3 linked regions of the Homo sapiens genome follow. The protein of the gene in region 2 purifies or fractionates together with the protein of the main gene of each other region. This does not show direct contact. Each region holds a gene or a part of one and is shown on either strand. Other genes may lie near its edges. The genes, in order: ZNF496, ZBTB34 and KLHL24.

The links.
Region 1: the proteins of ZBTB34 (region 2) and ZNF496 purify together in Homo sapiens (affinity purification with mass spectrometry; one large-scale study listed by BioGRID and IntAct). This does not show direct contact.
Region 3: the proteins of ZBTB34 (region 2) and KLHL24 purify together in Homo sapiens (affinity purification with mass spectrometry; one large-scale study listed by BioGRID and IntAct). This does not show direct contact.

What each region holds. Positions count from the first base shown.
Region 1 is NC_000001.11:247,300,728-247,304,376, forward strand, and holds part of ZNF496 (zinc finger protein 496), read right to left. Parts: intron 550-3,649; coding exon 1-549. UniProt on the Homo sapiens protein: DNA-binding transcription factor that can both act as an activator and a repressor.
Region 2 is NC_000009.12:126,877,490-126,881,138, reverse strand, and holds part of ZBTB34 (zinc finger and BTB domain-containing protein 34), read right to left. Parts: intron 1,750-3,649; coding exon of another isoform or gene 1,740-1,749; coding exon 225-1,739; 3' UTR 1-224. UniProt on the Homo sapiens protein: May be a transcriptional repressor.
Region 3 is NC_000003.12:183,634,064-183,637,812, forward strand, and holds the start of KLHL24 (kelch-like protein 24), read left to right. Parts: upstream 1-1,559; 5' UTR 1,560-1,730; exon of another isoform or gene 1,731-2,248; intron 2,249-2,471; exon of another isoform or gene 2,472-2,546; intron 2,547-3,749. UniProt on the Homo sapiens protein: Necessary to maintain the balance between intermediate filament stability and degradation, a process that is essential for skin integrity.

The sequences.
Region 1 (3,649 bases), on a different chromosome or scaffold from region 2:
TGGCCTTGCCGTTTTCCAGCGGCTCTTTGGGACCCTTGTCCGCGTCCTCGGATGCCGCCTGCTCTCTCTTCTCCACCGGCTGGAGTCTGTCCGGCTGCAGGTGTATCCGCCGGTGGGAGAGCAGGTGGGAGTTCAGGCGGAAGCTCTTCCCGCAGGCACCACACCGGTAAGGCTTCTGGGCCTCGTGGCTCTCTAGGTGCCCATCCAGGTCCTCGCTGTCGCTGAACAGCTCCCCGCACACCGAGCACTCGTGCGGCTTCTCCTGCTCCCTGCGGCTCCGCAGATGCCGGATGAAGTTGACCCTCCAGCGGAAGATTTTCCCACAGTTCGGACACACGTAGGACTTCTTGGAGGTCTGCACCTCGCCTCCGGCCTCGGTGCTGCTCCGGTGGGAGGCGGGGAGGCTGCGCTGCTTCTCTGTGGGGCTCCCCAGCTCTTCTGTGCAGTACGGGCCATGCTGGGAGTCCTCGTCCCCAGAGCTGGAGAGAACGATCTCGATGGTCACTTCTTCATCCAGGCTGTTCTCTAGAGATCGCGGGTTGCCGCCAGCTACAGGAAGGCAACATGCAGGTCAGCGACGCTGCACAGGCCACATCCCAGCCCCTATGACCGCGGCGGAGGAACACTCAGCTTGGAGTTTACAAACCCGTGTTTTTACAATGGTCCTCGGTGACCGGGGCGGCCTGGCCAGCCCTGCAGGGGCCACTGGTGTAGCCTGTGAGGAAGAAATCTTCAGCATGGGCCCCGCTGTGTCCAGAGCATGCTGGGCACCTTGCTCTCCCTCTTCCCAGCCATTTTCCCTTATCTCCACCCCCAACCCTTTTGTTCTCTACCCACGGAGACCACCCCATCCCCCCAAGCTCTAGGAGTCTGTATTTATCTGGGTAAAGCCTTGACCATTTACAGATCATGCACTTAACAAGGCATGGGGGAAAGCTCTATCAGGATAGTGAAAGGACTTGAGAGAGGAAGACTCTACAACCTACACATATCATGTGCTGGGCACTTGCATGCTCCAGGGACTGTGCTAGACTTGACATGCACATTCCTATTTGCTCCTGGACGCAACCCGATGACCTATTGGTTGCCATGTTTACACATAAACTAAGGTGATCTGTGCCAGGAAGGAGGGCTGAAATGCTACTCAGCCTTGCTAGGCTGCTCAACAGTCCCAGACTGCCCAGAGTCCTGGGTCCCCCACAGCTCCCCGGCTCCCAGTAGCACCGCATTTCTGAGGCCACAGGTGGTGATGGATAAAGCTGCTCTGGACTTCCTGCATCCTGAGTCTGTGATGTTGGGAAGGTGGAACCACGGGGCGGGGCTGGGTGGACAGTGCAGAGCCCGGCCTGAGGTCCCGGCTTATGGAGCAGAGCCCACCATACAGGTGGCCTGTTTCCTCACTGCTGTGAAATGTAGAACTCAAATCTAGAACTTGGGGGGAGTGAACCAGGCCCTCCCAGATAAGAGTAGGAACATGGTTAGTCTGGGCTTCATGACTGTGGGGAGGAGAGCCCTGGCTAGTCAGAGCAGCTCAGGACAGGAGAAGTTGGACAAACAGAAGCAGGGCAGGAAGACACAGAGGCTATGGAGAGCAGAGAGATAAAGGGCAATGGTGGAAGCGGAGGGGGCATTTGTCCCTCAGTCACAAGGGGGTCGGGGGAACATGAGTCTGGGAGTGGGTACTGAGTCTGCCAAGAACCCACGTAGTATAGGAGGGAAATCATCAGATGAAGACAGAGATTGTGTTTGTGTGTGTGCATGTGTTTTTAATTTTTTGTACAGATGGGGTCACATTATGTTGCCCAGGCTGGTCTCAAACTCCTGGGCTCAAGCGAGCCACCCATCTCAGGTGATCCACCTGCCTCAGCCTCCCAAAGTGCTGGGATTACAGGTGTGAGCCACTGCGCCCGCCGAGAGGCTATGTTTGACGCTTATCTCGACTCTTGGTTTTCGAGCTGCAGGAACCTCGTTCCAGCCAGACAGCTTCTCTGAGCTTGGGTCATCTCGTCTACAAGGTGAGAATGACAGTGGCAGCCCGTTGCTCTAAGCTGCTGGTGGGGCAGGTGAGGTCATGTGTATGATGTACTTTGTGGACCTCATGGGGTGGAGACAAGAGCAAGGTGTAACTTTTACCAGGCTGCCGATGACAAGGTACTTGATCAGCAGTTGACTTCTGTTAATGGACTTGGGTGGAAGAAGAAAACAAAGTGACAAGGTGGACCGCTAAGATCTCTTACTTGTTAACTGGGCGAGGAGATGGAATTATGAGAGCAGACAGTGCATGTTATGGGCGAAATTGTGTCCCCCTGAAAATTTACATGATGAAGCCCTAACCCATAGAGCCTCAGAATGTGATTACTTGGAGATAGGGTCTTTCAAGAAGTAATTAAGTCAAAATGAAGTCAGATGGTGGGGCCAATCCAAAATCACTGGTCTTCTAAGAGGAGGAGACTGGAGGCAGACTTCAACAGAGGGAAGGACCCTGTGAGGACACAGCAAGATGGGAGCCGTCTCCAAGACGAGAAAGGCCTTGGAAGACACCAGCTCTGCTGAAGCCTTGATTCTGGACTTGTTGCTTCTGGAATTGTAAGAAAGTAAGTTTCTGTTGTTTAAGTCACCCAGCCTGTGGTACCTTGTTATGGTAGCCACAGTAGACTAACATAGACTTTGGCACCAGGAAGTAGGGTGCAGCTAAAACAAAGACCAAAAACTGTCGAAGTGATTTTAGAACTAGGTCATGGGGAGAGGCCAGGAGAGTTCTGAAGTGCATGTTTAAAAAGCCTTGAGGAAGTGGCTGGTAGAAATACGGACGTTATAGGAAATTGGAGAAAAGGAGATCCTCCAATTATAAAGTGGCAAAGAATTTGGCCAAACCATATTCAACTGTTCTGTGGAAACAGAAATTGTAAGTAAGGAACTCGGATACTGAGCTGAGGAGGTATCGAAGCAAAGTGTCAAAGGCAAAGACTAGTTTTTTGCCGCTTATAGTGAAACGTGAGATGAGAGAGATAAACTGAAGAAGGAATTGTTGTAGCAAAAAGGAACCATGACTTCAAGATTTGGAAAATTCTGTCTATCCATACGGCAAAAAATAAGAAAGCGTGCACTGGAGAGACACCAAGAGTGTGGCTGGCTCATCATTTGTTAAAGAGATTCTGGGTATGATTCACGGATCCAATCAACCATCTCAACAGAAGCCAGGAACAGAGATGAGGTTATCCAGGAAGGTCTATGGAGGACACCCTCGTCTGACGGCCTGCAACCCTGTGGACTGCATGGAGGGCAGGGTTTCTGAGTATTATATACCAGCAGAAACACTGCCAGCTGGAACTGAAAGGAAAAGAGATGGGATGAAATAAAAGAAGGCTAGGACTTCTGGGATTCTACAAACTGGCCGATAGATCTATCTGGCTATGAATATGTACTATCCTTCAAGAAAAGGGAAGAATGACTCCAAAGGTGGCTCAGAGGTTACAGGACTGCCACTGTCATCATGGGACCAGAGAGTACAGGCTCAGGAGGTGAAGTCATTTCCTTCTGAGTTCCAAAGAGCAGGGCCAGTAGCCTGCTGGGCCTGGAGAACAGAGAACTGAGCCAGAGGTTATTGCTGAGCCTTAAAATCCCATGGAAATGACCTGCTAGATTTTTT
Region 2 (3,649 bases):
CTGTGTTTTCCCTGGATGCGTTGCCCTTCATGCTTTGAGCTCCTTCGGGGAGGGAGGGCAGGGGAAAGGATAAACACAACGAAGTGTTCCATCCAGAAACTTTAGAAAAACTGCCAAGAGACCAAGAGATTTCCAGATGGTTGGGAAAACCAAAGATTACAACAAAGCAAATCACAAATATGCATTGATTAATGTGCTTTGTTTGGGTGCACTTCTTTACCATCTTAATCGGGAGCATCAGACACTGTGTGAATTTCCATCCGGGAATCTAGGCCCATCTCTGAGGCCGATGCGTCATTTTCTAGTTTCTGTTCCACGTACACATCTGTTCTCTCGGGGGACTCAATGCGACTCCTGACTTCAGCAACGCCTGGGTGGTTTTTCCGCAAGTGCTGGTTGAGGGTACCTTGGAATGGAAAGCACTTCCCGCAGATCTCACAGCGGAATGGTTTATCATCTGTATGGCCCCGGATGTGGTACTCCAGTTGGTCCTTCCGTGTGTACTTCTTCCCACAGAACTTGCACACAAAGGGGGTGATTCCCATATGGAGTCGCATGTGCCTATCAAGGCTTCCTTTCTGGTTGAAGGACTTTCCACAGTAAATACAGATCAACCTCTCATTGTACGGGTACCAATGCCCTCTCGCACTCCTCTCCCGGGGACTGCTCTCATACCCGGGGTTGTTCATCATGGCTTCACTGTCAGAGCCCTGCACCAGGCCCTGCAGGTCACTGTGCAGGTGGACAGACAAAGCCCGCTTCTGGCGGGCACGCCCTCCTCGGAAACAGCTCAGCATGGACCTGGATGGGCTGGAATTACTCAAACTTCCAAAAGCTTCTGATACATTGGTTGGCTGTGAGGCTGCTTGGGAATAGGAGTATGCGTGCTGGAGCACAGAACCATAGGAGCCCACATTCACTGCCACAACTTGTTCCCCATCAACCATCTCGGTGTGGTACCCATCGTCACCCAGGGAGGAGCTGTCGGAACAGCTGGGCCGGTCGGACTTCTCCATCTTCACTTTCACCTCGGTGATCTGGCTCTCCCTCACCAATAGGTCTCCTTGCTCATGGTCTCCCTCTATCTGAATCTCATATTCAGAAACGCTCCCACTGCTCCCGCGGTCTGAGTGCCCCTCCTCCTGTAAGCGGCTGCGCAAAGCTTTGCTGGGGGTCGTCTCCATCCGGAGGTCACTGCTTGCGGTGGGCTGCCGTCCCTGAGAGCAATATGGAGGAGAGATCTCCACTGGGTTGGCAAAGAAGCTGCTGTCTTTCACTCCGTTTCGACTCTCGGGATTCTCTTCAGCACCGACGGTAACAGAGTCAACATCTCCAACGCTGATTTTGGAATGGATGCTCTCTAGGATCTGCGTGCACTTGTCAATGACACACTGCATCTGAAGAAAGCTGGCTGCAGTCAGAAAACTGACAACATCCTTCAGCTGCAAGGACATTCTTCCAGTGTAACAAAAAGAAAGCAACTGCTCAAACACATTGGGATTTTTAATCACTGATATTGACAAGCCACTCATGGTACTTAACGCTGAATGGTCCCGGAAATATGGGGAGCTGGCAGCAAGGACTGCTTTGTGGGCTCGGAATGGCTGACCCTGAATGTGTACAATGATGTCACATAGTTTCCCCTGCAGGCGGAGTTCGTTTAGCTGGCTCAGAACGGTGCTGCTGTACTCGGGCACATCAAACTGAATAAAACTGCTGCTGTCCATTTCTACTGACATGAAGCGTACTCTGCGGAGAGAGAGAGTTTGCATCATTCACCAATGACTCCTCACTAAGTACAAGTGGCATAAACACAAGCTTACAACAACAATACCATTGTGGCTATCATACCTCCTAAAATCTACCTGAAGCATTCTTCCCCTTGTTTTAGTCTTTCATGTTTTGGTTAATTCACCTAAAGCCAAATAAACTAATGATCAATTAGCCTAATGTCATAATTGCCTAATATTCATCTTGATCAAAAGTAAAATATTTTACACATAGTAGGACTATTTTGGCTCTGACTGAGAAATTGGTCTCCTTTTAGGAAAAATATTTCCCCATTTCAAGTACTTTTGAGGGTTTGAAGTACTTTGTGAAAAATAACTAAATTCAGGCCAGGCGCAGTGGCTTACACCTATAATCCCAGCACTTTGGGAGGCTGAGGGAGGCGGATCACTTGAGGTCAGGAGTTTGAAACCAACCTGGCCAACATGGTAAAACCCCATCTGTACTAAAAATACAAAAATTAGCCTGGTGTGGTGTTGTGCACCTGTAATTCCAGCTACTTGGGAGGCTGCAGCAGGGGAATCGCTTGACCTCAGAAGGCAGAGGTTGCAGTGAGCCGAGAGCACACCACTGCATCCCAGCCTAGCGGACAGAGTGAGACTCCTTCTAAAAAAAAAAAAAAAACAAAACAAAAACAAAACTAAATTCATCTAAAAATGTTCTACCTTACTTGTGTATTTCTGATTGGTATTTTTCAACTCTGTAGCACACTGGATACAATAAATGGAGCTAAACCCTTTTCAGTATTATTGTCTTGATTTGTGTGTTTGCCCTTCAGCTCTGTACACCTTTATATCTCTTTTGGGTTGGGTTGCTTTGGCTGAGACTTACCATGCTCAGTCTCCTTCAGTGAAGAGTTATTATTACTTTTTTTTTTTTTTGAGACAGAATCTTGCTCTGTTGCACAGGCTGGAGTGCAGTGGCGTGATCTCGGCTCACTGAAACCTCCGCCTCCTAGGTTCAAGCAATTCTCATGCCTCAGCCTCCTGAATAGCTGGGATTACAGGCATGCGCTACCATGCCCAGTTAATTTTTGTATTTTTAGAAGAGACGGGATTTCACCATGTTGTCCAGGCTGGTCTCGAACTCCTGACCTCAGGTGATCTGCTCCCCTCGGCCTCCCAAAGTCCTGGGATTACAGGCAAGAGTCACCACACCGGCCTATTATTACTATTTTTTATTAGAGATGAGGTCTCATTATGTTGCCCAGGCTGGTCTTGAACTCCTGAGCTCGTGATCCTCCCACCTCAGCTTCCCAAAGTGCTAGGATTGCAAGTGTGAGCTGCCACACCCGACCAGTGAAGAGTTATTTTAGACAATATTTTATTTTATTTATTTTTATTTTATTTTTACAGATGGAGTCTCGCTCTGTCGTCCGGAGTGCAATGGCATGATCTTGGCTCACTGCAACATCTGCCTCCTGGGTTCAAGTGATCCTCCTGCCTCAGCCTCCTGAGTAGCTGGACTACAGGCGTGCACCACCACACCCAGCTAGTTTTTGTATTTTCAGTAGAGATGGGGTTTCACCATGTTAGCCAGGCTGGTCTCGAACTCCTGACCTCAAGTGATCTGCCTGCCACGGCCTCCCAAAGTGCTGAGATAACAGGCGTGAGCCACCGCGCTCTGCCAAGACAGTGTTTTTAAACAGTAGTTATTTTAGACAACAAGAGTGAAAGGGTGATGGACACATCAAAAGGAATCACCTTCTACTAGCGCTCACAGCTGCGGCACACCTACAACAGGTTTCCTTCCTGTGGCCTAAAATCTGCAGCGCCAGACTGCTCAGAACTACTTAAGTATATATAGCCCCGGCTCCATCCTCTGACAGAAACATAACAAAACCAGATCTAACAATTATATT
Region 3 (3,749 bases), on a different chromosome or scaffold from region 2:
CTGCGGACCAATGACTCTAAGAAAAAAGTACAGATACACACACACACACACACACACACACACACACACACACACATACACACACGATGGATTATCTGATGGGTTTGATTATATGGAGTTGTATTGAAAGCATTTTATCGTTTTAGAAAAACTAAGAGGACATTGTGATAGATCCATAATAAAATAAGCAAAGAAAGAGGATAATTATTAAAACTCCAAGGAAAACCAAAAGCCATACAAGATGGGAAATTGTATACGATTTGTCTCAACAATGAATAATAAATACATGGTCTCATTAGCGTAAACATTAATGATTTAACCAGATTATGAGAAGGATAGCTTCCTTAATAGGAAATAGTCATACATTATTTGGAAATATATAAATACCAGAAGAAATAGCTCAAATAATTGAATAAGAGATGGAAAAGAGGCCTAAAAAGTATGTTTAAAAGGCCTGTATATAGGCCTTCCATATTATTTCCGCCTCTGGTCATCAGAACACAACGCCTAATTTAATAGAGGCATGACGGTATTCATGACATGTAGAAGATAGAGATTTTTAAATTTGGTATCAGAAACCAAAAACTAGTTAAATGGTTGCAATCATCCTTTAAAAGAATACCTGCAGGCGGGGCGCAGTGGCTCATGCCTGTAATCCTAGCACTGTGGGAGGCCAAGGCAGGCGGATCACTTGAGGCCAGAAGTTCGAGACCAGCCTGGCTAACACAGCCTCTACTAAAAATACAAAACATTACCTGGGCGTGGTGGCGGGCACCTGTAGTCTCAGCTACTCGGGAGGCTAAGGCGGGAGAATCGCCTGAACCCGGGAGGCAGAGGTTGCAGTGGGCCGAGATTGCGCCACTGCACTCCACCCTGAGTGGCAGAGCGAAACTCTGTCTCAAAACGAAACAAAACAAAAAGCTTGCAGACACAAAACGACAACACAATGTCCTTTAGGAACTCCATCTACCTTGGAAAACAGGGATTTGTGACAGCTTTGGTCGACGTGCATGTGCGTTTAAAATAAAAAGGTAACCTAGGATTTGATACCAGGGACAGTAACAGCTTTATCAAAAAAAAAGAGGTGGTTTTCCTTGCTCCTTCTAAGGACTGGGGTTTTAGTCTCGTCCACCCTGCAGGCCCTCAGGCCTGATTTCCGATTGTCTATCAAAGGGTCAAATAAAAAGCTCTCTAAGCTTCGACCCAAGCTTTAAAGTCGAAGGGCTGATCGCGGGCTTTTTCCTTGGGACGTGGCAGGGGCCTTTGAGGGAAGGAAAGAAACGACTCTGGCTTCTCACTCGGCTCCTTACACAAGAGGCATTTTTTTAACTGTCTCTGCTTAAAACAAGGTGTTTTTGAGTCAGCAGCCCTTTGGGTGGGTCTCGTCCTCTTGGGCACCCGACACCCACCCCACGGCGGGAGCCCCAGGTGGCCCCGGAGGCCACCGGGAAGCGTGAACTACATCTCCCAGGGTTCCCCGGGGCGGAGGACGCCCACCCGGATTGGCCAGGGTTCGCTGACGCTCAGTGTTTTGGCCCGGACGGTCACATGTTTCCTTTGTTGTGAGCTGCGGCAGAGACTGGTGGCTGGAGGAGACGCCGGCGCTGGAGAGTGCGCTGCGCCGCCCGCCGCTGAGGGACCGCGGGGTTAGCCACTGCTGGCTGCTTCCAGTGTTCGCCGAGAGGTACCGGGGGTGACAGCTCCGGGACCGGCCGAAAGGCGAGGAACCGGTCAGAGTCTGAGTCCTCGGGGGCGGAGGGGCGACGGCGGTCCTGACCACCGGGGTGTCTGCGGGAGGGCAGCCAGCGGCGGCCGGCCTCTCAGAGCCAGACTGGCGGTCTGCGGAGAGGCTGCAGCTGGGCTACAGGGCCCCTTTCTGAGGCGAGGGGCCTCCAGGGTTCACCTGGGGGGTCTTCCTCCCCCGCTTGGTAGCTACAGCCCTGAGGGAGGGCGCGCGCGCCTCCTGGCACTACGGCCCGGAACCGCGGCGCGGCTGGTGCGGCCTGGCTAGGGCGGGGTGGTTGCCGGGACTGGGGGTAGCCGCAGGTGCGGTAGGCTAGTCGCCGCGGGGCCGGGCGCCGCCGGGGGAGGCGGCTGGGCAGACGGGTGCTGCTTGTTGCCGATGGGCTGCGAACGGGGCGCTGCTTTTTATTTCAGGAAGCCCGGGGGAGTGCGACCGCCTCAAATCCAGCCTTCTTGTTTGGTGGGACGACCGTCGGTTCTGTCCGGGAGGAATGACGGGGTCAAGGTGGGGTCCCCAGGGCCGCGGGCCCGTGAAGCCCCATTAAAGCGATTGCGAAATGCACTCGGCACTGTCACCTGACCGTTACCCCCGCCCCCGTCCCCTGCGAGCCTTTGTTTACCACGATCGCGACACCCGGCCCGCTGCGGCCGTCCCCGGGGAGCCGGGGCGGGCGGGGGAGCGGGCGTTCCGCCGGCGCAGTCCCCGCCTAACCTCCCCACCTTCTTACCACTCCAGGACTCAGTTTCTTAATTTAGTTCCTAATGGACCCGCCCTCAAGTTCTGGACACCCCGGGTGAAGACTGTTAACGCGGCGGGGATTGGGCGCCTGCGGCAGCTTGTGGGCGGTACCCGAGGGAGAGTTCGAGTTTTTATTGGCGAGTTTTTATTGTCACTAGGTGGGCCTGCCCTGGGCCATTCTTCCCGCCCCCTTGAAGGTGATCTGGAGGACGCGCGGGAGCGCGCGCTGTCGCTGCTTTTGCAGCTGCGGCCCGAGTGGAGCCGGGTGGCGCGGGTGCGGGAGGCGCGCGCTCCCGCCCCTGCTGCGGGCGGCTGGTAGCCTCGGTGGCCGCCGCCGCCGCTGCTGCTGCCTGATCCTGCAGGCAGTTCTGGGCACGCAGAGATCGGCTACCGTGGCCTGCCCTCCGAGGACCGGAAAATTAACACCCTTTAACTAGTGTCGCGTTATCTGCCGGGTGGTTCGCAGGAAGTCCTGCGAACACGTTGTTGCCAGTTCTGTAAACGTGTTTAGATAGCTAAATATAGATCACAGTGCCACATCTTAGGGGGCCCCACGGTCACCCCTGAGGCAGTGGCTGTTCACAATTGATTTTAGTGGATTTTAATGATTAATCACTTGCTCTTGTGGGCAGCTTTTCAAAAATCACGTCTTTGTATTTGCAGCTACAGACTGGGTCCACCAGCTAAGAGGTTGGTTTTTATTAGGGTTGTAAAATAGATTTAAAATCTGCTTGTTGTTGGCTGAGATTTAAAAGCAGATTTCTACTATTTAAAAAAGATAGTTTGAAGATACTCCCCTAAAAAGTAAAGATTCTTCCATACTCGGCTCGGATGAGTTGTTTTCCTTGTTTGAGGGATTCTAGGTCACACACTTCTATGTTTTAATTCCCGTGGTAATTCAAAATGTTTGAGAAGTGGGTTGCGACTGTGTCGTTTTAAAATTGTACATTAAGCTGACGGTAATAAAATCTTCAAGACCAATCATTTTTAGCCATAGTGTGTTGAAAATGGTTTTTCTAATCGCTTGAGTTAATAGGGTATTTGCGTTTTGTCAGATTTTCTTCTGCAGATATAGGAATTCACTCAAGACTTAATACACTTGTTTTGTTTTTGAGACAGGGTCTCACATTCTGTCACCCAGGCTGGAGTGGAGTGGTCTCACTCCGTCACCCAGGCCATCTCAGCTCACTGCAATCTCCGCCTCCCGAGTTCAATCGATTCTCCTGCCTTAGTTTCCCGAGTAGCTGGGATGACAGGCGCCCGCCAC